Homo sapiens: one gene and its partners. The protein of the gene in region 1 interacts with the protein of each later gene in a pairwise test. Each region holds a gene or a part of one and is shown in the gene's direction. Other genes may lie near its edges.

Region 1 (10,602 bases):
AAGTTAACATAATTTAGAGAATTTGTTGTAAGAACTGCAGTTCTGTCGACAGCAAAAATCTGTACTTACAGATTCAGCTGCAATTAGACTTCTAATTGCTGTAGATGCATTTCATCTTACAAAAATTTTATAGTTCTATATTGTTTAATCTCATGAATTTGAAAAGATACATGTATATCATTGACCTCATTTGGATATGAATTCCGTGAGCAAATTCCTTAACCTACCCATGCCTTAGTTTCCTTACCTATAGAGGATAATCTCTGCAACGTGAGTTTGTGAGAATTAAATACAGTGTGTAAAGTGCTAGACACAATGCCTGTTGTAAATACTAAGTACAAGTTGCGTTTTTCAGTAATGGTGGGATGGTAGATCCTTGAGTGGTTTGTAGTGAGGTTTTTCATATAAATTATGCAAAATATGATTTTTTCACTCTTTAATATTACTATTCGTAGAGAGGGTAATACTTAAAATATTTTTAAAATTTCCTTTTATTCTCACCTACCCCTTGAAAATTAAATATACCTATATCTCAAGATAAGATAATTATGTCTAAAATGGTACCTGCTGTTTAATTTCTTTTTTTGGAGATGGAGTTTTTGCTCTGTTGCCCAGGCTGGAGCAGTGCCACGATGATCTCTGCACACTGCAACCTCCGCCTCCTGGCTTCAAGCAATTCTCCTGCCTCGTCATCCCAAGCAGCTGGCATTACAGGCGCCCGCCACCAATCCCAGCTAATTTTTGTAATTTTAGTAGAGGTGAGGTTTCACCATATTGGCCGGGTTGGTCTCCAACTCTTGACCTCAGGTGATCCACCCGCCTCAGCCTCCCAAAGTGCTGGGATTACAGGCGTGAGCCACTGCGCCCAGCCTGCTGTTTAATTTTTGAAGGAAAATAAATAATTTTTATCTAAAACAGTAATTTTACCTGCTGTCATGATTTATTTTTGCCCTAACTCTTGGCAACAAAGTACTAGTGACGCTTTAATTCCATATAACTGTTACTGTTGTATATGGATGAAGATGACTTAATTAAATTCCTTCCTTTTTTCTGCACAATGTTCCTTGTGGGGAGGAAGAAATAAGGCTGAATTCTTAGCGCCACCCGCCTCCCATCCAATATCATTAGAAAACAGTAGTGACAATGGCATTCTTCTTTCAGCCCCAAAATTATCTCTTGACTGTGTTTTTGATCAGGTTGTTAAACAAATTTTCGTCATAATAGAGTTTTTGTTACACATTTTTACCTTATTCCATAATCTGGAAATCAGAGGAATGCTAAAGCATTTTAGCTTGGCAAACTTGTTTCATCAGTATCTGGGCCTGGTACTATGCTGAACTAGGTGGTAGAAAGAAAAATGAGACATGGCCCTCATCTTCAAGGACCTTGGGGTGTAAGGCAAAGATGCATTAATTAGTGGAGATATGTCAAATGTGTGTATGGTATACAGATTTTCAGTCATAAAATACATTTTAAGACTTAATTTTTTCTACATAATTTAATCCTTTAAGATATTTCAAGAGGTTTTGAGTCCAAACCCTGGTCTGGTATCTTTGACTTTGAGTCATTTCTGTTTTCCAAATGACATTTTGAAAATTTTAAAAAGGAAGGTTTATTCTGTATTACTTACTTGTTCGCGCTAGTCCTTTTTCCATATCCCAGCATTTCCCTGTATACAATCTTAGTAATCAGCTGTTTAACCTACATTTGATTTTCTTAATTAAAGTGATAGTAAAGTATACCATAGTTTAAAAGGTCAAGAAATAGATAGATTTGGATTGGTTGAAACCTCTGTTCCCATTGGAAGGCAAAATAATAGAGTGGATAAAGCATTGGACTTTAGTCAGAAAGTTTTATGTTCCAGCTTTGTACTGTGCAGTAAGTGGCCTTGAGCAAGTCACTTAACCTCTTCATTTATAATTGCTTCATTTATAATTGATATTTTATGAATTTGCGAGATGACATATTTAGCTTACAGTTTTTATAATCTGATGTTTATAACAACTTCTTTTCACAATGAACTATTTAGGGGTTATTGGGAAGAGGAAATATTTGTGGATGAAGGGGAAATAAAAATTTTTCATTGTGCTCAAGAGAAGCACAGAGTTAAATGCTAGAATCATGATAAATTGAAGCATAGAAAGCTAGTAGGAAAAATAAACCAAATTTGAAGAAAGTTTATGTATCCATACTAAGAGTAAGACTGATCATTTGCTGTATGTTAGCCAGTAAATTACAGTTATTTCAAGTGCACGTTTATATACTGTCTTTAATTTTTGAAGTAAAATCTAGTAGCATTAGTATACTAGTTTTTGCCTATGATTTTTTTCTGATTCATCCATGCGTTCTGCTAGTAGGGAATGAAATTGTCAAATTAAGACTAGGTTAAAATGTATAAGGCTTTTTTTCATTCTTACATGTAATAGCCCTTCATTTATCCTGTGCATTTCAAAACTTAAAACTTTAGGGACAAATACTTTTTAAAAATTCTAACTTCGCTGTTGAGTAACCATATTAGCTAATACTGAGTATTTTTAGATGTCTTCCTTCAGGTTCAGATTAAGGAAAGTAGTTTTATTTTCTAGTATGTGAAATTCCATTTTTGGTATATTTTCTTGCTAAAATTAAAACAGTAATAAACCTTTAGGTGACCTTTCTTGCTGTTTCCCTTTTGAAGGTCATGGATAGTGAGGATGAAGAGGTGGTAATATTCTGAATTGAAAAAACTTACAGTTCTTTGGAGAAGCCTTCAGTTGTACAAGACTGAAATCCTGTGATCAGGATCTTAATCAGTATGATGATAGAAACATTGAACCAACTTTCAAGGTTTTTGGAAAAGTTTGTTATATAATTTTTCAAAAATTTAGCAATTATTTCTGCAGTTTTTATTTAAAGATGGGATGATTAGCAGTTATGGTGTGTTAATTGGGACATTGGTAATGTGATTTAAAATAAAATTATAATACCAGTCTTTTTTAAAAAAGTATGGAACAAACAGTGATAACTATTGTTTCTAAGTAGAATAGATTTTTGTATTACACTGTGGCTTCTGTATTTGTCTGGGTATTTATTTATAACATATTGTAACATAATAGAGTCTTTACTATATTAGGTTTACTTTTGGGAGGAGCAACAACAAAAAAACTTTGTACTGTTCAGAGATACTCTGTGGTATCTATATGATAAATGTTCAGGGCCTGTTGACTTTTGAATTTTAGTAGTAAGTATAGGAAGTTCATTATACTGTCCTCACCAGTTACGTATGAGAGAAATTTTTCTGAATGAAAAACCTGGGGATATGTCTGATTTTTGTTGTTTTGGGGGTTTTTAAAAAAATCTTCAGGCTATAACAATTTTTAAGCTCTTTACTGTTGCTTTTTAATTTGTAAAGGGCAAGTTACATTTACTTGTGAGGTCCACCTATTGTCTTTTTACAAGTAGATTTTGATTTGGTCTTAACAAACAATTTTAGGGTCTTTTTAACACTTCATTGAGTTTTTATTATGAAAATTGTTAAATATACACAAAATAGGGAAAATAGTATAATGAAACCCCAGTATTGATCACCTAGCTGAGATTTTGCCATGCTTGCTATGTCCATCCTCCCTGTTTTGGCAGAAGTATTTTGGAGCACATCCCAAACATCATTTCATCTCTAGTTAGTACATTTATATAAAATAAGAACATTTTCTTATATAATCACTTAATGTAACAAAATTAGTAATATTTTCTTTGTATCAATATCTTAGTTAAAAATAGGTGTTTTGAATGATATTCTAGCTCTGTGCTGTCAGTTATGTAGCCACATGTGGCTATTTAAATTTACATTAATCAAAATTAAAAATTCAGTTTCACAATTACATGAACTGTTTCAAGTGCTCAGTAGCCACATGTGACTGCCATATTGGACAGTGCAGATATGTTTCCATCACTGCTGAAAATTCTGTAGGACAACACTAGTCTAGATGCTTTCTTTATCACTCTGGAGGTGAACCTGAAAGAGATATTTATATTTTCAGAAAATGTGCTAGATTGTTCATTAATGTTTGATTCTTATTTCTTTCAGATGCATAGAAAAAGTAACAACTGATAAAGGTAAGACTTGGTCATCCTTACCTCTAGCGTACATTACACTGATTATCTTTTAATCTGTTAGAAAGCCTCATCATTCAAATTGGTTCCCATTTAAAAGGAATTTTTATTTGGTAAAAAATTACTGGAGTTAGAAAATATTTAGACGACAGCACGTTTGGATAATAGAGTATATTGGCATTATTTAGAAACCTAATAAAGGCAAATCAGATTGTTTGATGGTAATTTATAGTAACTTTTTTAAGCCTTTTATTTTTAAATGAGGTAACAGACTGGAATGATACACAGTATACAGAGTAAAGTGAAGGCAAAAATTTTTATGCTAGTAGAAATACAGATTAAAATTACAGGGTGAAGAATGCTGAGTGTTCTAAGAATTCAGCCTGGTGAATAATTAAATTAGGTCAATATTAGGTCATTTTCCTTTAAGTTTGAGTGTTAGCACACCAGATGTATGTATTATAGTTTTCTGTTTTCCTGGATTATGACAGGAAGCTAATGTTCACTTTTTCAATAACTTTTAAAATACTTTATTCTGGCTTTGCAGATTAGGTTATTAAAATTGCCCTAACGTGTTGGACCAGTTGCTTATTCGTTTCATTTTTGTTTTTTTCTAGTTTTTGGCTGTGTTCCTTGATGTTAAATTCAAACACACAGCATCCTCCTTAAAACTGAACAAATATACTTTTAGGCACATTTCTTTTATTACGTGTGACCTTGACCCAGGCTTGACACAGCCAGTTTCCAAACTCCTAGAATCCACCTAGTATCCATAGCTTTTAAGGTCTGCTTATAGCCTGCTACTATTTCTATAAAAGAATATATGTATATGCATTTTATATATCAGTGTATGTATTACATGTACATGAGAATCTTAAGGTTTTTCTGTTCTTGATAAATAATTCTTCGAGAACGTATAAGGCAAGTTTAAAGCCTGGATTTTGTGCCATATGGAAGAATGATAGTGTAATTTAAGAACCAATAACTTGCATTGGTGGTGGCTGCTTTGTAAATAATTAGGTTTCAATGCTAAGGTTTCTTATTTCTCTGAATTTTGGAATGTGAGTCTAATATTTCATAGTATAGCAGGCAGAGGTTTTTCATACCTGGCATTTTTTTTTTTTTATTTAGAAACCTTGGCATGATTATTTTGTCTAGCAAGTTTTTTGTTCCTGTTGTTGTTACTTAGAAAATAGGTTATGTCTGCCAAAAATGGAAGGTCTCACATTTCTTATTCAGAGATCAATTTGGAGATTTTATGATGTGGAGAAAATATAGAGACAGGTAACAAGTCTAGAGCATTCTGATTAAAACAAAAAGCAACCTGCTTTTGTCAGAGCTGAAATTACCTTACGTGTCCAAAGAAATCACTATGGGTTGCCTTGAGGCGAACTTGAAGAAAGGTGGAAATTTGGAGCCCCTTTTGGAGAGAAAAGTAGATGACCTTTGGGTAGACGTCTTTTTTTTGTTTGTTGAGTAAAGACAGGGTTTAGCCAGGCTGGATTCGAGCTCCTGGCCTCAAGTGATCCGCCTGCCTCGTGTGTAAATGTTTTAAACTAGAAGTTGACTTATTGGCATGTTTTGTGGTTGTGCAGCTGTGGAGAGATTAAAACTACATTCTGGATAATTTGATCCGAAGATCAATCCCACTTTACTGTTTAAAGGCCCTGGATCTAGATATTCTCAAATGCCAATCTTCATCTCTGTTAGTTTACCCATTAAGGTAGCTGTTCAACTCTATGAACAGTAGATAGGTATATAAGAACTGTAACATTCATACAAGATGAATGAATAAAGAAATGGAGGCTCGGGTAGTCACTTTTTCCTGTTGTGTTTCGTATTTAGAATTCACCTTAATTACTTTTCTTCTGGTCATTTAACTTCTCAGTTATTCTGGTACTCTGGAATAGTCCTCATGTTCAGTCTGCTAAATTTTAACTGAAATAACTCATGTTCATTTCAGAAGTTAAGGGTTTTTCAAAACTTTAAACAGGTTTTATTTTTTAGAGGTAAGACTGGCCTTCTGTTATATTAATGCTGAAAAGATATCTTCAGGATTGTTTTTACTCTTATTTACTCAAACCATCTAGAAATTGTATGCCTTCTTTGAGTTGAAGAGAAGAACCTTTGACATACACATAAACAATATTGCACACACAGAGTAGGCAACTTTCCATTAATTTGCAAAGCTGCAAATTAAGTTGCAAAGTTGCAACTTAAAAAAAAAGTTAAGTTGCAAAGTGCTACATTCATTTTTTTCAAACTGAAATAATAAACATGAGTATTAGTTCCTGTTTTTGCTACCCTTTTTTAACCGTGATTGGTGTATAAAACAAATGGAAAGCTACTATGCTAAAATAGTGTTAATTCATTCAACAGGTAATTGTTGAGCATCCACTATGTGTCTGGCGCTATTCTAGGCACTGGATTCTACTGGTAATCAAATAAATGAAGAAGTCAAAACAGTGTAATAATGTTTGATGAAGTTGGAGCTGAGAAAGCTAAGTTTAGATGAAATGATAAGGGAAGACCTTTTGGTGGAGGTGACATTTGAGATTACACCTGAATATGCAGATAGTTAATTTGGACAAGGAACATTCCACACAAAAGTTAAAAAGGAAAAATTACTTCAAACTTGAAAGCTTAGTTTACCACTGGCAGAGGATTATCTTCATGATTGTGGAGTTTCCAAGAGTGTTAGTAGAAATCTTAAGGGATGGAGATCTAGTTCCTTTTTAACTTGGCTTTATGTTTTCATTGTTTCTCTGTTTTGAACCAGTGTTGTACTTTGATTATAAAGTAAAAGAATAGTCTACCTACACGTAATTTTTAGTTATCCCAGTGTTCATTTTAACTTATTTCACTTTCTAACCTCTGACTAGACATGTTATGAAGCCTAATTTTTTTTTCTCCCATCTGTTATGTCCTTAGTGAGGAATAATAGTTAAAACTGCCTCTCAAGATAAAACATAAAAATGGAGACCAGAATACCTTAATGTTTATTAAAGTATGTTTTAAATGTTTAATGGAATGATAATAAATACTGTAGAATCAAGTAGATGTGGGCAGTGCTTCAGTTATTAATGTTAGATAGGTTATTTATTGCAGAACTTCTCAGAAACTTTGATTTTTGAGTAATGTGCAGTGTAAATACCAAAATTTTGCAGCGATTACCTAACCTATTTGACTTATAAGACCCCCTTTTTAAAGAGCATTTCGTAAAACTGGAGTTTACAGAAAACATACTTGGAAATACTGCATGCTTGAAAATTTGATTGTATAAAACTCTGGATCTCAACCTTTTATTCAAAATCATTTTACTCTTTTCAGTTGCTCTTATGAAATAGTGATGTTTGACAGTGATTACTGTGAGTCTCTAACTTGTGTAGTCAGGAAAAAAGAAGTCAGTCATCAGATAAATTCATAACAGATCTCAGCATTTACTTAGATTATTTGGAGCTTAACTGTTAAGTATTTACCTTACCTAGTTTATCATAATCAGCATACTATCTGTAATTATTACTAAAGTATTAGTTTATTTTGATTATTTTTCCTCCTGTCTGGATGACATCCTCAGTTTTTTTCTTATATTGATACAGTCTAATTTATAGCTTATGCCTCTGTGCTCCATGTTTTAAAATTAGAATTAATTTGTTATTAACAGTTTTCATAGATTTCAACAGTTTTATTTTTCATGTATTGAAATATCTTTGATTATCGTATCCTCTCAAATCAGTCTCTTGTATCCCATTCATCTTGGCCTCTTGTCAACTTGCAACCTCAATATAACATTGACTGTTTTTACTTCCTTTACAGATGTGTCTGTTTTATAGTATACTTTTTTGTTGGTTTTTCTTTCTTTCTAGTATATTTAAAGAATATTTTTATTATTTCTAAAAATACAGAAGACACATTTTTATGCTTTTTTTCCCATTCCAGTGAGAAAAATCTAACTTGTAATTCTTACCATTTGAGTTTGTGTACAAAAGGAAGAATCGAGAAGATACTGAGAACATTGTCTTCACAATTCTTTCTTGAAAGATTTTGAATCTCCTTGCTAATGACCTAGTTTTCCCAGTCAAAATAAAATCTTTTAGGTTTTGAATAGAAAAAGAGTTCTGGAAGGAAAATCTGTAGGTGAGAAAGGGCGTGTATAAGCCCAGTCTTAACACTCAGATAGGCTTTTAAGGTTTTTTTTGTTTGTTTTTGAGACAGGGTCTCATTTTATTGCCCAGGCTGGAGTGCAGTGGTGTGATCATGGCCCACTGCAGTGTTGATCTCCTGGGCTCAAGCCATCCTCCTGCCTCAGCTTCCCAAGTAGCTGGGACTACAGAAGTGTGCCGCCATTTCCAGCTAATTGTTTTTGATTTTTTTGTAGAGACAGGGTCTCACTGTGTTGCCTAGCCTGGTCTGGCTAGGCAGTCCTCTTGCCTCGGCCTCCCAAAGTGCTGGAATTTATAGGCATAAGCCACTACACCCAGCCTGTTAGTTTTAACTGAAATATTCCCCTTTACCAATTAAATGATACTGTTCTAAATTTAAATGTAAGTTAAAAACAACAACAACAACAAAAGCCTCTTTCCCTGGCTTCTCTTAATACTACTGAGATTGGCTAATATTTCAAAGCAAACTTTAATTATTTATGGAAAACAAAGTGCAGCTAGTGATAGAAATACACAGAGTAGTTCAGTTAGGTTTCAGAAACTCAAGTTTCTGACAATATAATGTTCAAGCCTCAAAGGCTAAATACAGTAGATAGACATTTTTGTTTGTCCTTCCTTCCTAATCTTTTATCTTAAGGTAGCAGTAACTGTATTATTTCTCTTAGTATGAGAATAATTTACTCAGACATCTTGTTCCATGTTGGGTATGGCCCAGATCCTTTAATCCGTATTGCTAGTTCAGACATCCAAACCTCCTTTGGTTCTTTTCCATTATTAATTTCCTACAAATAAAGATATATGTCACTTATAATATGTGAATTGTGATGTAGGCTTAAAAAGCCTTGATCATCAGCTTATTTCAGTTATGGGATTACCTATCAGGTAAATGAGTCTTAACTTTATAATAATTTGCCTATTACAGCTCAACTTATTGCCATCTTCGACACAGTTATAAGTTTATTCTGCTATATATATTATTTTACATTGAGATCCCTTTTCCTGCCAAGACCACTTGAGAGTTAAAGCAGAATGCCCTGATAGAAGAAAACTGAAGCAGAGGAAACTTAAAATCCTTAGTGGGGAAAGCCATATTCAGCCAGTACAAATCCAAAACCTTTAAGAGAGACTTGCTTGTATCTTCATTTTGAAATGAGCCTTAGTGGATAAGAATCTGTGACAAAAAGTAATATTGCCCCTTGACTGTTAAGTTCAAGAAAGAAGAAATTCCTCTGAATTAAAACCAGCCTGAATAATCTAATGCTATCCGGGCAAAGGCTTCTTTAGCTTCATAACAAACCATCTAAAAATTTAGTGGCTTAAAACACAGCAATTTATTATTTACTGGTTGGGCCATTCCCCCCTCCTCATTGGTCATTCAGTTCAGACTTGTTTTATATTATGGTGGTTGTGGCGCAGTGTTCCAAAATCCTGAAGGCAGTAACTGCAAGGTGTCTTGAAACCACCCCCACAGTATAATCAATCAGTTGTATTTCTGTATATCAGCAACAAAAAATAGAAAATCGAAGTCATAAAATCAAAATAAAATTTATATTAGTATTTACAACCCTATAAGCAAGATATACTGCTCCATTTACTTAGGTTTTTAATTTTACTCAGCAATGTTTTGTACTTTTCAGTGTATAGGTCTTTCAAATTTTTTATCCCATATATCCCTGAGTATTTCATATTTTTTGATGCTGTTAGCTTAGCTTAATTGGGATTCCCACTGTGTTTAAGAGTGGGATTGATTCTTTAAGAAAGAAGAGGTGCCTAGATGCTTTGTGGATATCCAGTCATGGCTACTGTACATTTATATTCTATTATTTAACCGTTACCTAACTGAAGGGCATTTGATATTTCTGGGTTTTTTTTTTTTCCTGAGATTACAGGTGATTTTTAGAGAAATCCTATTAAAATGTACCATACGTATACAGAAATGCACATATTATAAGACATATACATGTACTCTTGTTTCTCCTCCCCCTTCTTTATTTTATAAGTGGGTGGACCCAGGGTGAGCCCAATCATGTAACCATTTACACAACTGAAGAAATAAAACATAATTGTTTTGGAAACTCCCTTATGCTCCTTCAAGTCAACCGCCCCCAAGTGTAACCACTATTTTGACTTTAGCAGAAATTAGATTTGCCAATTTTTGAATTTTACATAAATGGGATAATACAGTAGGCACTCTTTTGTGTCTCGCTTATTTTGCTCATCATTTGTGACAAATGCTGTGTTTGTCATAGATCGTTTATTTTAGTTGTTGTATAGTGTCCCATTGTGGGAATATAACCACAGTTTAACTGTTTTACTGTTGATGGATGTTTGGGCAGTTTTCAGTTAT
Region 2 (10,602 bases), on another chromosome or scaffold:
TACTCAATTGTAAGTCAAAGACCACCTGTATTCTTAGGAAAATCCCATGGAACAGAGCTATTTACGCCAATCTCGTATGTCCAGTCTCAGCAGAGCCTCAGTTTCTGGTATATTCCACCGTTGTGGGGCAACCTGCAGACCCTGAAGACTGCTAGTTCAATTTTGTTTACTGATTTTGGTTGGTTTTCCATACTAGAGTTGCCATGGAGAAAATTCCAGTGTCAGCATTCTTGCTCCTTGTGGCCCTCTCCTACACTCTGGCCAGAGATACCACAGTCAAACCTGGAGCCAAAAAGGACACAAAGGACTCTCGACCCAAACTGCCCCAGACCCTCTCCAGAGGTAGGAGTCAGCTTCTTGTTGGCTTCCAACTGCTACTTAATTGGAAAAGATTTCCTCTCTCTTGGTGCTTAAACCTGGTTCTAACCTGGTGCCAGGTTATTTTTGGTTGTGTTCCTTCTAGACTTATCACTGTTTATAATTATTTCTACTTTCTCCAGGGGTTTTTCTTCTTCTTTAGTATAGGGTCTATTATCCCAGTCTTTACCATTGCTTTTCAACAGCTTTGGGTCTGAATTTATACAAGCTTCAAATATACTGATTCATTTCATTCTAGGTTGGGGTGACCAACTCATCTGGACTCAGACATATGAAGAAGCTCTATATAAATCCAAGACAAGGTAAAGATCAGGATTACTCAGAGCTCCCTCAAAGCTCTCAAGAGCACCACCTAGTGACATCTAGATATATGTGAAATCTTACTCATTAAAATTTGTCTAATCTCTGTCTTTTAAAGCAACAAACCCTTGATGATTATTCATCACTTGGATGAGTGCCCACACAGTCAAGGTAATTTATTCTTCTAAGTATGATTTCCTTTATAGGCTTTTAGCCTTAGGGCCAGGGTTCAGATCACTCATGTTTGTATCTTTAGAACCACAGTTGCATTAAAGAAAGAATATTTTATATAGTAAAAACATATTTAAAAGTGACTTCAAATATCTCCACATTTTGTGATAACCATTGGTACATATTTTGAAAAACTAGTTTTAGGATTCATCTTCAACTTCTTGATTTCTCTTACAGTCCACATTCAATACACCAGCAAATACTGGCTTTATCTTCAAAATATATCCTTAAACCAGCACCAGCTTCACAGGCATGAAGCCTGTGCCATCTCACAGGGCCCCAAGCTTAGAAGGTTCCCAAACTTGGTTTAAACTTGGCTATCATTGTCTTAAAAGTCTTAGTAATTCTTCAACAAGGGGCTCTACCCTTTCATTTTGCACTGGGCCCAAATCCAACCACTTCCTATTGCCTCCATGCTACTGCCCTGGTCCAAGCCCAGATCAGATCTTGTCTAGACTACCATAACAGTCACCTAACTGGCCACCCTACAGCCAGTCCACACAGAAGCCAGAGTGAGGCTGGTAGACATAAATCAGATTCCATCACTCACGTGCTCAAGTGGCTTCTTATCACAGAACTAAATCCAAATTTCTGATCACAACCTATGAGGCTGACATGATCAGGCCAATGGCTATCTCTCCCTTCCTACCACTCTCCTCTTGCTTTCTTCACTCTCTCCAGCCTGGCCTTCGTGCTGTTCCTCCCACAGGTGAGCTCATTCCCACCTCACAGCTAGTGCTTTTGCAGTTCCCCCTGCCCACAGTGGCCTACCCCAAAATGGACCACTCCCTCACTTCAACGTTAGCTCCTCAGGAAGATCTGCCCTGACCACTCACAGTTTTTAAACCCTTTGCTTTGCTTTATTTTTCTTCAAAGTACATATCTCTACCTGAAAGTATCATCTACTTATTTCTTTGTTTATGGTTTGTCTCCCACACAAGTATGTGAGCTCTGTGAAAAAACACATGCTTTTTTTTGTTCACTGCACCATCCCTAGTACAGAACACAGTGCGTAACACATGGCAGCCATTCAATAAATATGAGCTGGAGAAAAAAATGAATTGATGAATGAATGGATGAATGAGTGAATAGAAAGCAGAGGTAGTCAATGCCATAGATATTACTTCACTAATCATTTGCTAAAAGGCCAAAGTAGAATACTGTATTTAAAATGCAATTCAATAAGTAAATAAAATGCAATTTAACTGAAAATTGAACAAAGCTTTTAACCAATGCTAAGATGGATGCTTAATGATTTTTCTTTATATTATAGCTTTAAAGAAAGTGTTTGCTGAAAATAAAGAAATCCAGAAATTGGCAGAGCAGTTTGTCCTCCTCAATCTGGTTGTAAGTTTCCTTTTCATCATTACTAACATTTCTCTATGGCTCATTACTTGAAATGGATGATTCATTTTTCCTATACATCTTAGTTATACTGCATTAACTGGGATTGCTTCCAAATATCCCATCTCATAAATTAGAGAGAAAAAAGATATTTCGTTGTATTAATAATCCATTTGGTGTGTCTGTTTTTATTTAGTAATTAATCATCTTAGTTTGTCTGAAAAATTATCTCCCGTAGTCAGAATTTTTTCTGTTGCTGGAAGGTTTTTGTTACTTGCTGTGCCTGTCCCTCTATAGTCCTGGCTTCTCTACACCCATTCTTAATCCTGGTCATCTCTTGGGAAGAGACAGCTCTCTGGCTTTCCAACTCTAATCATGCCTCTTGTGCTTTAGCTTCATGCATTCCCACCTTACTTCACCACTACCACCCCTCACGGTGCTCAAGCTTTCTGTCTCGGCAAGTTCTTTTTACTGTATACAAATGTTTCATTTTCCTTCTAAAAGCAAGCCAACAAAAAAATGACTCTACCTAATCATATGTCCTTTTGAGCCCTCCGGCCCTTCCTCTTCACAGGTTGGCTTCCTTAAAGACCACTTCGCACCAGTAGTTCTTCCTTGCCTCTCTTCCATGGGCTCTTCCTCTTCCTCTTCCTACTCCTTAATGTGAGTGACATGATGAATCTCTACTTGACCCTTTTCTCTTTCCATATTTTGTATTCAGTGAACAACTCCATCTACAACTGCCTTTAATCAATTCCGACACACTAATAATTCCTACATCTTACCCAAACATGAAACAACTTCCAAATTGTCTATCCAACCATATTCCAGATATCTCATAATCAGCTTAAACTCAGTATGTTCCTCACTGCACATTAATCATCTTGGTTTGCGCTTTTCCAATAGCTCTTCTTTCTCTATTCCCTATTTTACTGAAAGTGGTACTGTGCTAGATTGGACTCTCCTACTTACCTACAGCATGCAATAAGCCCTGTGCTTCTAAATTCCAAGTATTCCTGCTACTAGTCACTTCTCTATAAACTCAGGACCACTATTTTAGTAAGCCTCTTTCACTTTCCCTAGCTTACTGTAATACTGCTAAATGGCTCCTGGTCTACAAGATAAACTCTGTCTAATCCCACATGGCTGTCAGAGAAGTTGCTTTACAGACCAAACTGGGGTCACAGTGCCTCTTCTAACATCCCTCCAGTGGTTCTTAACTATTTCTGAACAAAGGAAAACACTATGGCATGGTGTGCAAAGTCATTCCTAAGCCGGCCCCTGAAGCAGCTCTAGCACCTTCTTTCGCCACTGCCCTCGTGCATCCCCCCAACTCAGTCCTTCCCCAGCACTTGGCCATAGGAGAAAATGCTCCACCTGTCCTCTCCATACTCTTCCCCCTGCATGAAGTGTCTTTCTTTTCCACCTAACTGACTCCTGTTCATTTGTAAAGATTCCTCCTTATCCACTTCAGAAAGTCCTAGTCGGGGTGGAATCTGCATTCTGGGCTAAATGTCTTGCTCAAGGCAATCACCAAACCTGCATATCCTACACCGTAACATTTCACCCACTGCATCCTCAATATTCATTTTCCTACCTGTATCTCTCAATAGAGTGTGCATTCATTAAAGATAAGCACCATGCCTTGCTAAATACAGTTCTAAATAAAAATTGATAAATGGATAAATGAATACTCAAGAAAATCCCGTACTTGTCTCCGTAATTTCTCTAGAAATGACATCTGCTTTTTTCCTTAATAGCCTCTTATTTCATCCCAGATGTCTTCCCCAAACACAGTAACTCCTTCCAAATTCTCCCTTAATTTTTTTGCTCTTTATCACATCCATTCAGCACTTTATCTCATGTTCTGCTCTATCTTATTTATTATTTCATGCTTGTAACTTGTCTCCTCATCTGTACAATAAACTCTGTGTGGAAGAGTTATGATATCTTGAGATGCCTGGCCGGAAATGGACAGATTCTTGTATTAACAAGTTTGAAAACGACTGAAAAGTCAAAGTAAACTAAAAGATGCTTTTCTTTTTATTTTAGTATGAAACAACTGACAAACACCTTTCTCCTGATGGCCAGTATGTCCCCAGGATTATGTTTGTTGGTAAGCGGAAGTGACAGTGAGATAACTCGGAAACACATACTAGTGCTGCCATCCTCCTTCTCTCCTCCCCACTGTCCCTTGCCACGTTGCCATGGCCAATGTCATCACTAAGCTCTAGCAAGGAGCATGACATTCCTTTAAGTTCCGCAACATATTTTCTTTAGAAAATGTGAGCTTTTACCTATTTCCACACAACACTTTCTTTTCTCACATGCTAATTGTAACTTTTCATCTTCTGCTATAATACTTCTGAGAACAAAGCACCCTATTCACTATTTAAACATATTGATAAATTTCCTGAATACGAGAGGCCTGCAAATATTTATTTTTTAATCCAGCAAACTTTCACTTTGTGTGTTAGATTTTTCTGACATTTTTTATCATTATTTTTAAGAAAGTTAGGAATAAGGCTGGGTGGCTCACGCCTGTAATCCTAGCACTTTGGGAGGCCAAGGCCGGCAGATCACTTGAGGTCAGGAGCTCCAAACCAGCCTGGCCAACAAGGTGAAACCCCATCTCTACTAAAAAATACAAAAAAAAAATTAGCCAGGCGTGGTTGCAGGAGCCTGTAATCCCAGCTACCTGGGAGGCTGAGGCACAAGAATTGCTTGAACCCAAGAGGCAGAGGTTGCAGTGAGCCGAGATGGCACCACTGCACTCCAGCCTGGGCAACAGAGCGAGATTCTGTCTCAAAAAAAAAAAAGGAATATGAGGTGGGAAAAAGAAATGAAAGGAGCCACATGCTCCTTCCTGCCACTGGTACTTTTCATATGCTTTCCCCACTTCCTTCTCTGTCCCCCAATTTCACATCATTAACTCCCCAATCATCATTATTCATTGACCGAGTCAAATCCCTACTATGTGCTCTTGTAGTCATACTTTCCTCAGGTATAATTTTGCAGTTTGGGGGTGGTTATGTAATAAATATTTCCCACATTGGACTATAAGCCCCTATGGCAGGGACTGTACCTATTTCTGCTCACCATGATATTCCCAACGTGACCCTGCAGTAGGCTCTCCATCAATATGTGTTTAATTATTGAATGAATGTACTGAGTTTGGCTTTGTTCAAAGTCATACTGATTTAAGGACAATCCATAATGAAATCCATCACTTACAACAATTCATGCTAATCATATGATTCACCTGTGTAATTCATTAAAAGTTTACACTGAATGTACAAAGCAGGGAAAAGAAAAACAAGAAATAGAAAAAAAGGAAGAAGGCTGAACTAAAGCACTAATTTTATAGGTTTAGTTTTGTCAGAATTTAGGACATTTGGAATCCTAACATTAAAAGGGAATTTATAGATGTCTGTTCATACCTTGTACAGGAATTCTTTGTACAGCATCCCTGTGGAAGGGCATTTTAACCCACATTCAATTCCTTCAGTCCTAAGAACCAGCTCCAAGGCAGCTTGCTCTTCTAGCTCCGTAGTAGCCACCCTGACTACATGTTTGAATCACCTGGAGGATTTTAAAGATCAAGTTGCCCAGGCCACACCTCAAACCAATTAAATCAGAATCTCTGGGGGTGGGAGGCAGGCATCCATAGTGTTTACAGCTCTCCAGATGATTCCAATGTGCAGCCAGGTGAGCTGCTAGTTGGGTATTTAAAAAGCCCTTCTTAGGTTAATTTCTTACAAAGATTAGACCGTGTCTTTGTATCCTCTGCACCAAACAGAAGTATAGTTGGTCTTAAATCTGGTGAATAAATGTACATCTGCTTCTTGTAATTTATGTGTCTGGCCTTAGTCCAACATTCTGAAATGACAGATTGCCCACTCCAGTACCAGCGACAGACTTTGCAAACATGCAGATGGTTCTCACATGTCTTCCTTGTCTCATTTTCAGGGCACGTGTCCTAGGTTCTTTCGATTACGTCTCTCAAGGCAAGGTTTCCAGATCTCTCTGTATCCTCACGCTTCCCTTTTGGATGCACCTTAATTTTAAAATACCTCTTTTTCTCATTAATTAGATCACTTCAAGTTAAATACAAAACATGGCAAGATGGATTTAAATTTAGAGGGATATAAGTATACATAAGAGAAGACCAATCTCTACTTTTAAAAATGCAGTTAATTAACAATAAAGTAAAATATAGTGAAGGTACTATATGCTTATTTGAACTTTGCTGTTGTTAAGGACTTGCATTCCTCTATTAACTTTTTTTAAAAAACTCGTTTTGAAAACTAGCATTGGATGTGGGTTTCCAATGATCTAGAAACATGTAAACTACAACATAATCGTTTCAAGAATTTAAAATAATTTTGCAGTAGAGAATGTTAATGTTTTCACCAAAAAAAAAAAAAACACCATGTCACCCCTAAATATATATTATTCTGTTTTCAGGTTGCCATAGATAGAACAGAAGGGTTCATAACCTTTTCCACAAATAGCACTGCACAGCTGTTGATGTTTCCAGCCCTGCATTTGCTACTAACTGCCAGGGGCTGGGTAGTAGAGTGGATGGATCAGAGCTCCTGTGAGTGCAGACACACTCCATTCCCTCACAGGACATGAATACATGAACTTCAGCTCCCCGGGGCAATAAATACAGGTTGTTTGAAAACAAACCATTCCATTCCCTTTTGCTTCATTTATCTTTGCAGACCCATCTCTGACAGTTAGAGCCGATATCACTGGAAGATATTCAAATCGTCTCTATGCTTACGAACCTGCAGATACAGCTCTGTGTAAGTGTGACCTTCAATTCGGATGTTGCCCAAGAGTTGAACACCTCTATTGCTGTAGTGATGGGACTAGAGGCTGCATGGTGAGGTGAGAGAGAGCTAGGCTTAGGGACGCCTCGGACTCAGTTTGACCCTAACTAGCCTTGCATCTTCAGGCAAATCACACTCTTTCCATCTCAGGTTTGTTTGTTTTTAATCTCAATTGAAGATGAATTATTTAGATTAGGTATCTTTTTCTCTAGGAGGATTCTATGACCACATTACCTGATTTTCAGGTTTTCTGTTAGGTACACGAGCACACACTCCTTCTATCACAGAACTGAGTGTAATAATTGTAATAATCTGCATGTCTTAATTTTTTAAATAACAAAAGTGAAAGAATGTGCAGTCCAGCTTAAAATTAAATTCAGGTTCAGTTTAAAGATCAGTTTCAAAGATGATCCAAATGATTGCCAAGAAAATTACCTTCCCTATGGTTGCCATCAATGGAAGAGAGACAGAGAGAGAGAGAGACACTGACTTAAGGCAGATGAGGTACCTCAATGCAACGCTGTAGCTAGCTGTGACATCTGATTAGTCCTCTGGGAAGAAAAGTGGGTTTTATCCTAGGAACCAACTCTGATCAATTAGTAGTGGCTGCCTAGAACTGCACTGTCCAATATGTTAACCATTTGCCACATGTTGCTACTTAAGTTAAAGTTAGAAATTCATTCCTTCAGTCACACTAGCCATATTCCAAGTGCTCAATGCCCGGACACTGAACATTTCCATCATCACAGAAATTTCTATTGGCCAGTGCTGACTTAGAACGTCATGTTGGGAAGAGAAGTGAGGCCGTGTCTAGGAAGCAGGAGAGATCATCATGGTCCATTAGCAATGTTTCCAGTGTGTGCTGGACCAGGGGAAGCACATTCCAAGTACTGTCAGCCATTACTGAGATAATACCATACATTTTAATAAGACTAAGCTCTTAAAAGGCACGTGTCCTACACAAGTAATATCACAATCCCTTGTAGAACAGGCACTTAATAATTAAGATTTGTAGGAAGAGTGAATAAGCGGCTGTTCAATGCCTATCGAGTGGACATCTTATTTTTAGTAGATCACATACCTCATTTTGATGAATTGCTGTTGAAGAAACAGTGACCCAGAGTTTGGGCTCTGGAACAGTAGCTCCATTACTTGTTAGCTGTGTGACCTTGAGCAAGCTACTCAGCCTCTCTCTGCCTGTTTCATTATGTATATATAAAGTTCTAATCGTGTTTGTATGAGGATTAAAGAATTCATCTGCATAAAGCACTTGGTTTGCTATTATTTATATTTCCCCTACTTCTAAAACAATTTACACACACCTACTAATAGACATTTCTTTTAAACATGATTTAAATTTACTTCTAAATGAGCCAAAATTATCTTCTGCTGCTAGAGCTTATAAAAGGATTCTTTTGGAAGTGAGGGTTGGAGATGAAGGATCTGGGAAGGAATGACTACACTAGAAAACTAGATTGTCACAAAAGCCATTTCATATAATTTTTTTAAATTACAATAAGATTACCAACTATTCACCTCATGATAAAAAGCATCCTATCAGGCTGGGCACAGTGGCTCACGCCTGTAATCCCAGCACTTTGGGAGGCCGAGGTGTGTGGATCACTTGAGCTCAGGAGTTCGAGACCAGCCTGGCCAGCATACCAAAACCCCATCTCTCCCAAAAATACAAAAATTAGCTGGGCATGGTGGAGCACACCTCTAATCCCAGCTACTCAGGAGGCTAAGGCTGAAGAATCACTTGAACCCAGGAGGCAGAGGTTGCACTGAGTGGAGATTGCACCACTGCATGCCAGCCTGAGTGGGAGTGAGACCTTGTCTCAAAAAAAAAAGCATCCCATTAAATAATGAATTGAGCATCCAAGTTTGGGGTTTATTATATCGATATAACGCACGATGGTGTCTTGACTCTCCTGCTTTTATCCCCCATTAGTGCTTGACAACATGAAGAAAGCTCTCAAGTTGCTGAAGACTGAATTGTAAAGAAAAAAAATCTCCAAGCCCTTCTGTCTGTCAGGCCTTGAGACTTGAAACCAGAAGAAGTGTGAGAAGACTGGCTAGTGTGGAAGCATAGTGAACACACTGATTAGGTTATGGTTTAATGTTACAACAACTATTTTTTAAGAAAAACAAGTTTTAGAAATTTGGTTTCAAGTGTACATGTGTGAAAACAATATTGTATACTACCATAGTGAGCCATGATTTTCTAAAAAAAAAAATAAATGTTTTGGGGGTGTTCTGTTTTCTCCAACTTGGTCTTTCACAGTGGTTCGTTTACCAAATAGGATTAAACACACACAAAATGCTCAAGGAAGGGACAAGACAAAACCAAAACTAGTTCAAATGATGAAGACCAAAGACCAAGTTATCATCTCACCACACCACAGGTTCTCACTAGATGACTGTAAGTAGACACGAGCTTAATCAACAGAAGTATCAAGCCATGTGCTTTAGCATAAAAGAATATTTAGAAAAACATCCCAAGAAAATCACATCACTACCTAGAGTCAACTCTGGCCAGGAACTCTAAGGTACACACTTTCATTTAGTAATTAAATTTTAGTCAGATTTTGCCCAACCTAATGCTCTCAGGGAAAGCCTCTGGCAAGTAGCTTTCTCCTTCAGAGGTCTAATTTAGTAGAAAGGTCATCCAAAGAACATCTGCACTCCTGAACACACCCTGAAGAAATCCTGGGAATTGACCTTGTAATCGATTTGTCTGTCAAGGTCCTAAAGTACTGGAGTGAAATAAATTCAGCCAACATGTGACTAATTGGAAGAAGAGCAAAGGGTGGTGACGTGTTGATGAGGCAGATGGAGATCAGAGGTTACTAGGGTTTAGGAAACGTGAAAGGCTGTGGCATCAGGGTAGGGGAGCATTCTGCCTAACAGAAATTAGAATTGTGTGTTAATGTCTTCACTCTATACTTAATCTCACATTCATTAATATATGGAATTCCTCTACTGCCCAGCCCCTCCTGATTTCTTTGGCCCCTGGACTATGGTGCTGTATATAATGCTTTGCAGTATCTGTTGCTTGTCTTGATTAACTTTTTTGGATAAAACCTTTTTTGAACAGATCTTTTGGCATTATTAATTTTTCCAGGGATATATTTTCAATCTTTTCTATCTCTCCTAGTGACTACTATCATTAGTAGGTGTTGAGCATATACTGCTGATTTAATGACATACAAATCTTCAGCAAAAATATCACAGGTTAATCAGCTCCCTTCTCACAAGTAGATAACTTACATGTGCTGAAAAAGGTAAAACATTCCATTTAAAAAGATCTCTGAGGGATAACAAGAGGAAAAAGAGGTTTCCCTTCCATAAACAAATATTTTAAATGACAAGTTCTAAGTGATTCAAGTTTCTCCTATAGTATAGCAAAATATTTTTTCATTGGGCGGACGTGAAATAAGGTTAACTTCTTAAAATGTATTGAATGGCAAAATATCTTAACACATACAAATACTTTTTAAATATAAATAAA
Region 3 (11,516 bases), on another chromosome or scaffold:
TGTATATTTATATATAAATATATATTTATATTTATATATAAATATACATAAATATATATTATACATAAATATATATTTATATATAAATATATAAATATAAATATATATTTATAAATATATAAATATACATGTATATTTATTTATATATAAATATATAAATATACATTTATATAAATATATATAAATATACATGTATATTTATTCATATAGAAATATATATAAATATACATGTATATTTATTCATATAGAAATATATATAAATATACATTTATATTTATTCATATAGAAATATATATAAATATACATTTATATTTATTCATATATAAATATACATTTACATATAAATATATATAAATATACATTCATATATATTTATATATAAATGTATATTTATATATATTTATATATATTTATATTTATTTATAAATAAATATATAAATATATATAAATATATATTTATATTTATATATAAATAACTATATAGATTTATATATATTTATTTATAAATAACTATAAATATAGATTTATATATATTTATTTATAAATAACTATAAATATAGATTTATATATATTTATTTATAAATAACTATAAATATAGATTTATATATATTTATTTATAAATAACTATAAATATAGATTTATATATATTTATTTATAAATAACTATAAATATAGATTTATATATATTTATTTATAAATAACTATAAATATAGATTTATATATATTTATTTATAAATATTATAAATAAATATATAAATATATATTTATATTTATTTATTTGTATTTATATATAAATATAATTATATATAAATATATATAATTTATATATAAATTTTTATATTATAAAATTATATATATATAAATATATAGTGTGTTAGAAGAGAGAAATTCTAGGAGGCAAAATAGGGAGAGTGGCATGGAGGGGGCATTATCTGTCACCTGGATTGCTGCAGGGGCCTCTGAGTAGTCTCCCTACTTTTAATACACCCCACATGACCCCTGCTCTTCACAACGGCAAGCGGGATTCTGTTCCATCCTAGATCATACCACATCTGGCCTCTGCTCAGAATCCTCCCGTGACTCCCATCTCATTCAGAGGAAAAAGTTCTCGCCACGGCCTCCCTGATCTGACCTCACCACCTTTCTGACCTCACCTGCCACCACATTCCCCTGACTCACTGTGTTCCACCCACAGTGGCTTCCTTGCTCTTCCTCAAATATGCCATGTAGAGTCCCACCTCAGGGCCTTTGCTCTGGCCGTTCCCCCTGCCTGGACTTCTCTTCCCCGAGATATCCGCATGACTCACTCTCTCACCTCCCTTAGGTCTGTGCTCAGATGACACTTCCTCCGTGAAGCCTCCCCTGTCCACCTCATCTAAAACTGCAGCATCTTCCCCACCCCTAGCACTTCCTATCTTCCTTCCCTCCTTTATGTTTATTCTTAGGAACTTGTCATCATCTGACATACTATACTTCACCCGTGTCTCTTCTTTGTTATCTAGAATGTCGGTTCCACAAGGGCCGGGATCTTTATCTGTGTAGTTCACAGCTGTATCCCCAATACCTAGAACAGTGCCTGGCACACAGATGCTTGATAAATATTTTTTCAGTGTATGAATGAATATGCACAAGCATCCCTACATGTTTATATTCACACATACTTGCCTCCTCACCTAAAATAAAAACCAAAGTCCTCATCGTGGCCCACAACCCTACACAATCTGGCCCCAAGGCATCTCTGCGACTTCACCTTCCACCACTGTCTCCCTTGCTCTCACCGTTCCTGCCTCACTCGTCTTCCTGCTGTTCCTCAAGCACACTAAACACATTCCTCATCATGAATAAAGAAATCTATTAAGTGAGTGGTACCAGCATTTTAAGAACACATGAAAGAGAATAAAAATGAATGGGGTACATTGCATACAGGTTCAGTACTGTTTTGTGAAACTTTTGGTTGAGCTGTGTGTGTGCGTGCATGTATGTGTAGCGGGTTGTGATGTAAAATGTATTTTTTTACTGTGGGTGGCAGTAAAAAAAAGTCTGAACACAACCTTAGAGCTTTGCAAAAGGGGAGAAGAGCTGCACCAACATCCCTGCCCCACAGATCCACCAGTGGAGGAAACAGGTAACCAAAGACATCCAAAGAAATGCAGCATCCTCACCTGACAAGGAGCGGGTAGGAGCAGGAGTGGCCCAGGGGCAGGGCCTGGCACCAGCCAGGGCATAATTGGGGAGGGCTCGTAGACACACTAACCCTACCCTTTCTGTTTCTTCCTCATCTTTCCTTTCCATCTGTTTCTCATGGTCTCCTGTCTGTCTCTCTCTCTCTCCCCTCTTTCTCTCTCCTCGCTCTTTCTCATCCCCTCCATTTCTGTGTCAATCTCAATCCATTTATATCGGTGGCCACTTTTCTATCTCTTTGTTCTATCTCTCTCTCTCTCTCTTTCCCACTTTGTCTCTGCACGCCTGTTGTGTTTTTCTGCCTGTCTCTCTCTTGCCCTCATCTCTCTGTCTCTCTCTTGCCCTCATCTCTCTGTCTCTCTGTGTCTGTGTCTCCCCCGCTCATTCCCATTTGCAGGTGCAATGTAGCAGGACAACTCATGGAGCCCCCCCGGGCCCATCGAGTACCGGACTGGCTGACCCCCTAGGGTTGGCAGTAGCCCCTGACCCTCAGTATGGCCAACACTACCGGAGAGCCTGAGGAGGTGAGCGGCGCTCTGTCCCCACCGTCCGCATCAGCTTATGTGAAGCTGGTACTGCTGGGACTGATTATGTGCGTGAGCCTGGCGGGTAACGCCATCTTGTCCCTGCTGGTGCTCAAGGAGCGTGCCCTGCACAAGGCTCCTTACTACTTCCTGCTGGACCTGTGCCTGGCCGATGGCATACGCTCTGCCGTCTGCTTCCCCTTTGTGCTGGCTTCTGTGCGCCACGGCTCTTCATGGACCTTCAGTGCACTCAGCTGCAAGATTGTGGCCTTTATGGCCGTGCTCTTTTGCTTCCATGCGGCCTTCATGCTGTTCTGCATCAGCGTCACCCGCTACATGGCCATCGCCCACCACCGCTTCTACGCCAAGCGCATGACACTCTGGACATGCGCGGCTGTCATCTGCATGGCCTGGACCCTGTCTGTGGCCATGGCCTTCCCACCTGTCTTTGACGTGGGCACCTACAAGTTTATTCGGGAGGAGGACCAGTGCATCTTTGAGCATCGCTACTTCAAGGCCAATGACACGCTGGGCTTCATGCTTATGTTGGCTGTGCTCATGGCAGCTACCCATGCTGTCTACGGCAAGCTGCTCCTCTTCGAGTATCGTCACCGCAAGATGAAGCCAGTGCAGATGGTGCCAGCCATCAGCCAGAACTGGACATTCCATGGTCCCGGGGCCACCGGCCAGGCTGCTGCCAACTGGATCGCCGGCTTTGGCCGTGGGCCCATGCCACCAACCCTGCTGGGTATCCGGCAGAATGGGCATGCAGCCAGCCGGCGGCTACTGGGCATGGACGAGGTCAAGGGTGAAAAGCAGCTGGGCCGCATGTTCTACGCGATCACACTGCTCTTTCTGCTCCTCTGGTCACCCTACATCGTGGCCTGCTACTGGCGAGTGTTTGTGAAAGCCTGTGCTGTGCCCCACCGCTACCTGGCCACTGCTGTTTGGATGAGCTTCGCCCAGGCTGCCGTCAACCCAATTGTCTGCTTCCTGCTCAACAAGGACCTCAAGAAGTGCCTGAGGACTCACGCCCCCTGCTGGGGCACAGGAGGTGCCCCGGCTCCCAGAGAACCCTACTGTGTCATGTGAAGCAGGCTGGTAGGCAGACAGGCAGAGAGAAGGTCATGGCCACCGTGATGGGGCCAACAGCAAGGGAGGGGTAGGGGCCCATACAGGAGTCCTCCTTTCTGAGCTCCAGCCCCAGCCCCTCGAACCACCTGTAATCTAGGCACCTTTGCCAACACCTCCCAAGGATGGAGGACTGGGCGAGGGACTGGGAAAGAGGCATATTTAGTTTTGTGGGGCCTGTCTCCGCTGCCTCCTTCTCCACTTCTACAATCTCATTCTCTCTCTCTCTCTCTCTGTCTCTCTCTCTCTCTCTCTCTCTCTCTCAGAAGTGACAATTCAGAAAAAGAAAAGAACACTGAGAATGCAGGTTTTTCTACTAACAGCTGAGGAGACAGGCTTTCTTACTTTAATGTCTCTCCTTCTGACACTGTCCAGAAGGGGGAATTTGTCCTGTAAAATAGACTTCCAGAGCTCTTTTGCCCCCTCTGCTCCCATGCACCCTCCCCTTCCAAGTCCTTTAGCAAGGCCTGGATGTTTAGGGAGAAAGTGGTCCAAGGCTGCTGACAAGAGGGACCAAAGGGGGTGCTGGGTTCCCAGGGAGCAGGGATGTTTAATTACTATGTCATGTGCAATGTTGTTTTAGGCCAACCCTTGCCCCAAGCCCAGTCTCTTCTCCCTCCCCACCATGTCCAGACCTCCCAAATGGTTCTTGTGCATCTGTTGGAGAAGTCAAGGGAGTAGGGAGAAGGGCCCCAAGGATGGGCCCAGGTTAGGTGAAGAGTAAGATGTGAGCTGAACTCCTCGAACTGAAGAGACCCACACTTGGTCACATTCTCTCACGCTGCCTTCAGGATCCCCAGCCCCCAACTCTTCTTCCTGAGGATGGAAATCCACTCCAGCCCCACTAGGACTGATGTGGGTGCCATACAGGCAGGAGCAGCCCACCAGGAAAGTGTAAGGAGGGAGCTGAACTCCCCAGAGTAGCTGGACCACAGAGACTTGGGTCAGAGCTGATTTCAACCCCAGAATTGTCTCTCGGGTTCACCCTACTCTTCTGAAGATGAAAATTTGTTTGGGGCCTTGGTAACCGATAGCGGTACAAACTCCAAGGCACTGTGGACTTGAGTCCATTCCTATCTGACCTCTTTTTGTCCCCCTCAAGCCTCAGGGGCCTCAAGCCCCTCCTTAGTAGCCCTTGGCTGACTGGGCCCTGAGCCCCAAGCATCCTTCTTTCCCAACAACCCTCCTTCCCCATCCTTCCCCCACCCTTACCTACACCCAAAGTGGAGCACACTGCAGTCAGATTCTCCAGGAGGGAGATCCAAGCCTCCTCCCAGGGGTGGAGTCCACTCTGGGCTTACTTTGAGGCCTGTTCTGTGGATTGGTGAGCCAAGCTGGCACTCCTTGCCCTGGTCTTACCCAGGCTCTCTGTCCCCCTCTCACTTCCTGTGGGGCCGGAATCTGTATTTATCCATCCCCCTTTCCCTTCTTTATAGAAGTCCCTGTCCTAAACTCCCTCCCTAGCCCAAGAGAGCCCCAGAACTGGGGAAGCCTGACCCATACAGAATGGGGAGGGCACTCTAGGCAGGAGAGACATTAATGAGCCTGGCTGCAGAGTGGCCCTGGAAAGGCAGGCCAGAGTGGCTGAGAGGCTGGGAGTAGGGGAGCCTGTTCTCTCAGCGATAGTGATGGGGGTGCCTTTCCGAGGGGGTGGGGTGGGAAGACCAAGGGGGTGGGGGGTAGATAGGGTACATTTAGGAGGGTTTTCCTCCATTTCTTTTTTCTAACTGCCTGGATTCACCATTGGATTTTGTAAATGGAAAAACTGAAATGAACAATGCTATACTGGATGTTTTCTCTTTCTGACTGTGTGTGTGTGTGTGCGTGCGTGCGTGCATGTGCCCTGTCTGACCACATGTGGAGAGACATGATTGAGTGATAGTGTGTGTCTGTGTGACTTTGTGTGGGGAGGCACTCCTGAAGAAAACTTGCCCGGTGCACACACGTAAAATGCCTGTATATGGGGACAGATACAGCACGTGCATGCATACACACACACACACACACACCACAGTTGAGAGGAGACAAACTAGAGTATGTGCCCGTGGTAGGAAGTCGAGTGGTCAAGAGATGGATCTTGGAAACTACATAGGTCGGTAGCAAGAGGGTAGACTCCCATCTCACAAGATGGGCCTCCCTTGGCCCAGGCCCTGAGCACGGGAGGGCTGGGGCCGCCAGGGAACTTGAAAACCTCATCTCCTCACAAAGCCTGTAGCCCCATCTCAACCCCGTCTCAGTCTCCTTCCCAAACTCAAACAAGGTGTTCCTAAAATTGGACCACCATGGAGAATGGGGACTGGGAATTGAGGATCAAATGTGAGGGAAACTGATGAGGTTAGGAAATGCCCCCCACAAAGTAATGGCTTCTGGAGGGACTGCTCAGTCTGGGATGGGAGCCCTTCCTAGGGGCCACTGTATGCAGCTGGGACTTTGGTCAGCTTTGACCAAATTTAGAGGGAGGGATGTCATGGGGAAAAAAAACCCAAGCCCAGGAGTCTACCCAGCCAGCCTGCTCCCTAGACAGTTAATTTACTATCTGGTTATTCTCTCAGGTGCACAGAATTGAGTTGACCATACTCCTCAGTTCTTGGCACACTATATCATCATTGGTCCATGTGAGGCCCTTTTATTTTTTTTTCTTCAGTTTTGTCCCCTTCATCACCCATTCCTGATCCCATCCTCCCCGCCCCCTACACAGGCACCCACTCTCGTGTATTTAACGTACGTCCTTCCAATCCACCGTTCATGTGTTTATTTACATATATGTGTATCTGTGAAAAATGTATGGTATTGCTGTGTGTTTTAATTTACATAAACAGTATTGTACTATAAATCTTGTTGTTTCTTTTTTCACTCAACATTCTGTCTTTGAGAGATCCAGCCATGTTGCCGTATATAGATCTAATTCATTCTAGTGGTCCATCTAAAACATATATCACATTTTTCTTATCCACTCCCCTGATGATGGATCCCTAGGTCTCCTCTCTGCTCCGCGACAAGGCTGCAATGGGCAGTTACCTACACCTCTCTTGAGGGATGCCTAATTTAGGGGAGAGAAAACTGAAGCTCAGAGAGGGGCAGTGATTTGGTTAAGGTTACAAAATGAGGGGCACACCCATGATGTGAATCCCAGCACCAAAGCCAGCCCTCCACCACCATGCCTCACAAAAGACCATCCATCTCTGGTTTAAAAAGAAAAATCTTAAAATACAGCATACACTGGGGAAAGGGAGAGGAAAGGATGGAAAGGGGGAGAAATGAAGAGACAGAAAGTGCTAGAAAATTCTAGCAGATGAGCTGAATCACAATCATTTTTATGACGCAGAGGAAGTTACTTTTTTGTGTGTGTGATTATTATTTGTAGAGCCATTTTGCGGAGATGGAAAACGCCACGTCAAAACCTGGCCCCCAAACCAAACACCCTGGGTGCCTAAATTGCAGGCGCAGGCGGTAGGGCAGCCCGAGCCCCCGAGGAGCTACAGCAGAGTTCACCCAGGGGGCAAACGTGGGGGGTGGGGGAAGGGGCAGAAGTGGAAGGTAGGAAAAGAGGCAGAAGCGGGGGGGCGGGGGGCAGGGGTTGTGTGAGGGAAGGGGCAGAAGTTGGGGGATAGGGGAAGGGCAGAAGCGGAGGGCGGGAGGGTGAGGGAAGGGGCAGAAGTGGGGTTGGGGGGTGAAGGAAGGGGCAGAAGTTGGGGGATAGGGGAAGGGGCAGAAGTGGGGGTGAGGGAAGAGACAGTTGGGGGATGGGGGTCAGAAGCAGGGAATGCGGGAAGGGGCAGAAGGGGGGGTGAGGGAAGGGGCAGAAGCGGGGGAGGAAGGGGCAGAAGCGGGGGGTGAAGGGGCAGAAGCGGGGGTGGGGTGGGGGAAGGGGCCGAAGCGGGGGATGGGGGAAGGGGCAGAAACGGGGGGTGGGGGAAGGGACAGAAACGGGGAGTGGAGGAAGGGGCAGAAGCGGGGATGGAAAAAGGGGCAGCAGTGGGGGATGGGAGAAGGGGCAGAAGCGGGGGTGGGAGAAGGGGCAGGAGCTGGGATGGGGGAAGGGGCAGGACCCGGGATGGGGGAAGGGGCAGAAGCGGGGGTGGGGGAAGGAGCTGAAGGAAATGGGGGAAGGGGCAGATTTTAAAAGTGCGTAGTTGCTGAGGGGAGGGGGGCGGGGGGAACGATAACGAGGCTCTTCCAATTTCATGTGAGCACATCCTGCTCAGCGCCTGCGTTTGTTTTTCGTCTCGTTTTTTGGTCTTCAGAACCACTGGTACTTTTCCCATTGGATAAAACGCTGAGAGGGTGAGGGAGAGGGGCTTCTTCCCCAGCTTTCCTCGCAGCCAATCGCCCTGCAGTTTCCCTCCCGTCGCTGAGGGAGTCAGCCCGTTGATTGGCGGGCCCGAGGGGAGCCAATCGGAAACTGATGATGTGTGGTGTTGGCAAGCGGATTGCGTGAGAGCGGGCAGGGGTCGCGGGAGCGCGATCGCCGCCGCGGCGGCCGGCAGCCAATGGCCAGGCCGAGCGGACCCCTGCGTCAGGAGTGGGCGGGGCTTCGGCGATTGGCGCGGAGGGAGTAGAGCGGGCGCTGTGGGAGGGAACGCCAGAGCGAGGTGGTGAGGAGAGCTGGTTGCGTGAGTCTCCTCAGCTCTGCTTACCGGTGCGACTAGCGGCAGCGACGCGGCTAAAAGCGAAGGGGCGAGTGCGAGTCCCCTGAGCTGTACGAACGCGGTCGCCATGGACCGCCCAGATGAGGGGCCTCCGGCCAAGACCCGCCGCCTGAGCAGCTCCGAGTCTCCACAGCGCGACCCGCCCCCGCCGCCGCCGCCGCCGCCGCTCCTCCGACTGCCGCTGCCTCCACCCCAGCAGCGCCCGAGGCTCCAGGAGGAAACGGAGGCGGCACAGGTGCTGGCCGATATGAGGGGGGTGGGACTGGGCCCCGCGCTGCCCCCGCCGCCTCCCTATGTCATTCTCGAGGAGGGGGGGATCCGCGCATACTTCACGCTCGGTGCTGAGTGTCCCGGCTGGGATTCTACCATCGAGTCGGGGTATGGGGAGGCGCCCCCGCCCACGGAGAGCCTGGAAGCACTCCCCACTCCTGAGGCCTCGGGGGGGAGCCTGGAAATCGATTTTCAGGTTGTACAGTCGAGCAGTTTTGGTGGAGAGGGGGCCCTAGAAACCTGTAGCGCAGTGGGGTGGGCGCCCCAGAGGTTAGTTGACCCGAAGAGCAAGGAAGAGGCGATCATCATAGTGGAGGATGAGGATGAGGATGAGCGGGAGAGTATGAGGAGCAGCAGGAGGCGGCGGCGGCGGCGGAGGAGGAAGCAGAGGAAGGTGAAGAGGGAAAGCAGAGAGAGAAATGCCGAGAGGATGGAGAGCATCCTGCAGGCACTGGAGGATATTCAGCTGGATCTGGAGGCAGTGAACATCAAGGCAGGCAAAGCCTTCCTGCGTCTCAAGCGCAAGTTCATCCAGATGCGAAGACCCTTCCTGGAGCGCAGAGACCTCATCATCCAGCATATCCCAGGCTTCTGGGTCAAAGCAGTATCCTTCTAATCGATACTCCGTAGGTCAGAAGCCCGTGACAGGAAAGGGGAAGGTGGGGGAGGGACAGAAAAGGTAAAGCGGGTGGAGGAGAGCCAGAGGTGGGCATGATCCCCCTATCGGAAGACGGACTAGACTGGGTGGAAGAGGGATGGAAGGAGGAGGGCAAAACAGCAGAGAAGCTGGACTGGAGATGATGAAGGGTGGTGGAGGGGGGGCGGACATAAAAACTGGACCACAGATGGGAAAGGGGGAAGAGGAGGAACATAGCATTAAAAAAAGGATCACAGATGATAAAAAGGGGGAGGGTAGTAAAGGGGCACACAGCAAAAAAATTGGACCAGAGATGGTGAAAGGAGGAGGGGAGGGGCACGTAGAAGATGAACTGACTCAGAGACCTTGAAGAGGGAGGGGAATGGCACACAGCAGAGAAACTGCCCAGAAAGGGTGCTTGAGCCATACAAGGCTCTGTAAACCTAGATTTTTGCTTAAGATACTAGGAGACCCCAATCCTGGCTGGAGTGCCTTGCATTGGAGGGAGGGGGGCTGGAGCCCCTGAAAGATCAAGAGAGGGAGTGTCTAGGTATAGAGAAAAAGGAGTTAAATGAAGGAAAGGGGAGAGTAGACACATACACATACATGTAACATGTTAGGAACATGAGTCGAACATCCTAATAGAATTATGTGGATACAGACCCTTAGCCCTCATATGAAACAGCACATGGTAAGAGGCCCTTAGCACCCAGGCATACAATATCATTTAGACATAGGACCTCAGCTCCTAGACACAGTATTATGTGACCACAGGTCCTCAGCATGTAGACACATGGCATAACTTGACCACAAGCCATCAGAGCCATTCACACATCATGTGGACATGGACCTTCAACACCCATACATACAATAACGTGACCACAGGCCCTCAGCAATCAGTTACAGCATCACTTGGACATGGCCCTTAAGCCCCCAGACGTGCATTTTGTGAACACAAGCTTTCAGCACCCAGTGACATATACCACATGCACATGGATTGTCGACACCCTGTAGGGCCACCTAACATAGAGGTTTATCATGGGAATAAGTATGGGTTATGTCCCATGACTCACTTGCTTTATACACACCACATAAGCACAGAAGGAATCCTCATGCTCCAGCCTCTCTTACTGTGCCCTTCCTGGCCTTCCCTCCCTCCCTTTCACGGAATAGTCAATCCTTGACCTAAACTGCTCCACTCATCAGTTCCTCAACCACCCCAGAATTTCAATTTTGATCAACCGACGTGATGAAGACATTTTCCGCTACTTGACCAATCTGCAGGTCAGGCCAGAGAGACATTTTTTAGTAGGATCGGGCACGAATCTGGTTCTTGGAGGTGACGGGAGGTGGGTGGGAAGGGCCGTGGTGTGTTGGGGGGGGGACAGATTCCACCATCACCCCCACCTGGAGCAGGTACAGGATCTCAGACATATCTCCATGGGCTACAAAATGAAGCTGTACTTCCAGACTAACCCCTACTTCACAAACATGGTGATTGTCAAGGAGTTCCAGCGCAACCGCTCAGGTAAGTGGCAGTACCAGAGTAAATCCATGTTCCCCCCCTCAATCTGTCCTTGTTTTGTCCCATCTCCATAGCCTTCTCTCTCCCTAGGCCGGCTGGTGTCTCACTCAACCCCAATCCGCTGGCACCGGGGCCAGGAACCCCAGGCCCGTCGTCACGGGAACCAGGATGCGAGCCACAGCTTTTTCAGCTGGTTCTCAAACCATAGCCTCCCAGAGGCTGACAGGATTGCTGAGGTGGGGCCCTTCCTGGCATCACCAGAGAAGGCCTTGCTAGGCTTGTTCCTGGGTGCGTGGGGAATTAAGAGGAGGATCTGGAGCTTGTACTAATGGCTGTCTTATTCCTTCTCCCCTTTTTCAACAGATTATCAAGAATGATCTGTGGGTTAACCCTCTACGCTACTACCTGAGAGAAAGGGGCTCCAGGATAAAGAGAAAGAAGCAAGAAATGAAGAAACGGTAATGGGAGTTTGGTCGCTGAGAGGTGGTTTGTTGGGGATGGGGAAAAGACTAGTGTAACACAGGATTTATGGAGCCAAAAAGGGACCTTTGAGATAATCCCAGTGGAATATGTTTTACAAGTGGGAAATCATGCCCAGAA

The links.
Region 2: the proteins of ZFP91 (region 1) and AGR2 interact in binary tests that used the Homo sapiens proteins (3 or more experiments, as listed by UniProt).
Region 3: the proteins of ZFP91 (region 1) and TSPYL2 interact in binary tests that used the Homo sapiens proteins (3 or more experiments, as listed by UniProt).

What each region holds. Positions count from the first base shown.
Region 1 is NC_000011.10:58,580,790-58,591,391, forward strand, and holds part of ZFP91 (E3 ubiquitin-protein ligase ZFP91), read left to right. Parts: intron 1-4,066; coding exon 4,067-4,095; intron 4,096-10,602. UniProt on the Homo sapiens protein: Atypical E3 ubiquitin-protein ligase that mediates 'Lys-63'-linked ubiquitination of MAP3K14/NIK, leading to stabilize and activate MAP3K14/NIK. It thereby acts as an activator of the non-canonical NF-kappa-B2/NFKB2 pathway.
Region 2 is NC_000007.14:16,791,398-16,801,999, reverse strand, and holds the end of AGR2 (anterior gradient protein 2 homolog precursor), read left to right. Parts: intron 1-196; 5' UTR 197-203; coding exon 204-342; intron 343-616; coding exon 617-680; intron 681-796; coding exon 797-849; intron 850-2,182; coding exon 2,183-2,256; intron 2,257-4,305; coding exon 4,306-4,369; intron 4,370-6,980; coding exon 6,981-7,064; intron 7,065-9,042; coding exon 9,043-9,092; 3' UTR 9,093-10,189; downstream 10,190-10,602. UniProt on the Homo sapiens protein: Required for MUC2 post-transcriptional synthesis and secretion. May play a role in the production of mucus by intestinal cells. Proto-oncogene that may play a role in cell migration, cell differentiation and cell growth. Promotes cell adhesion.
Region 3 is NC_000023.11:53,073,948-53,085,463, forward strand, and holds the start of TSPYL2 (testis-specific Y-encoded-like protein 2), read left to right. Parts: upstream 1-8,419; 5' UTR 8,420-8,551; coding exon 8,552-9,358; intron 9,359-10,597; coding exon 10,598-10,675; coding exon of another isoform or gene 10,676-10,807; coding exon 10,808-10,919; intron 10,920-11,006; coding exon 11,007-11,152; intron 11,153-11,279; coding exon 11,280-11,374; intron 11,375-11,516. Other genes in the region: GPR173 (probable G-protein coupled receptor 173), read left to right, coding at 2,675-3,796. UniProt on the Homo sapiens protein: Part of the CASK/TBR1/TSPYL2 transcriptional complex which modulates gene expression in response to neuronal synaptic activity, probably by facilitating nucleosome assembly. May inhibit cell proliferation by inducing p53-dependent CDKN1A expression.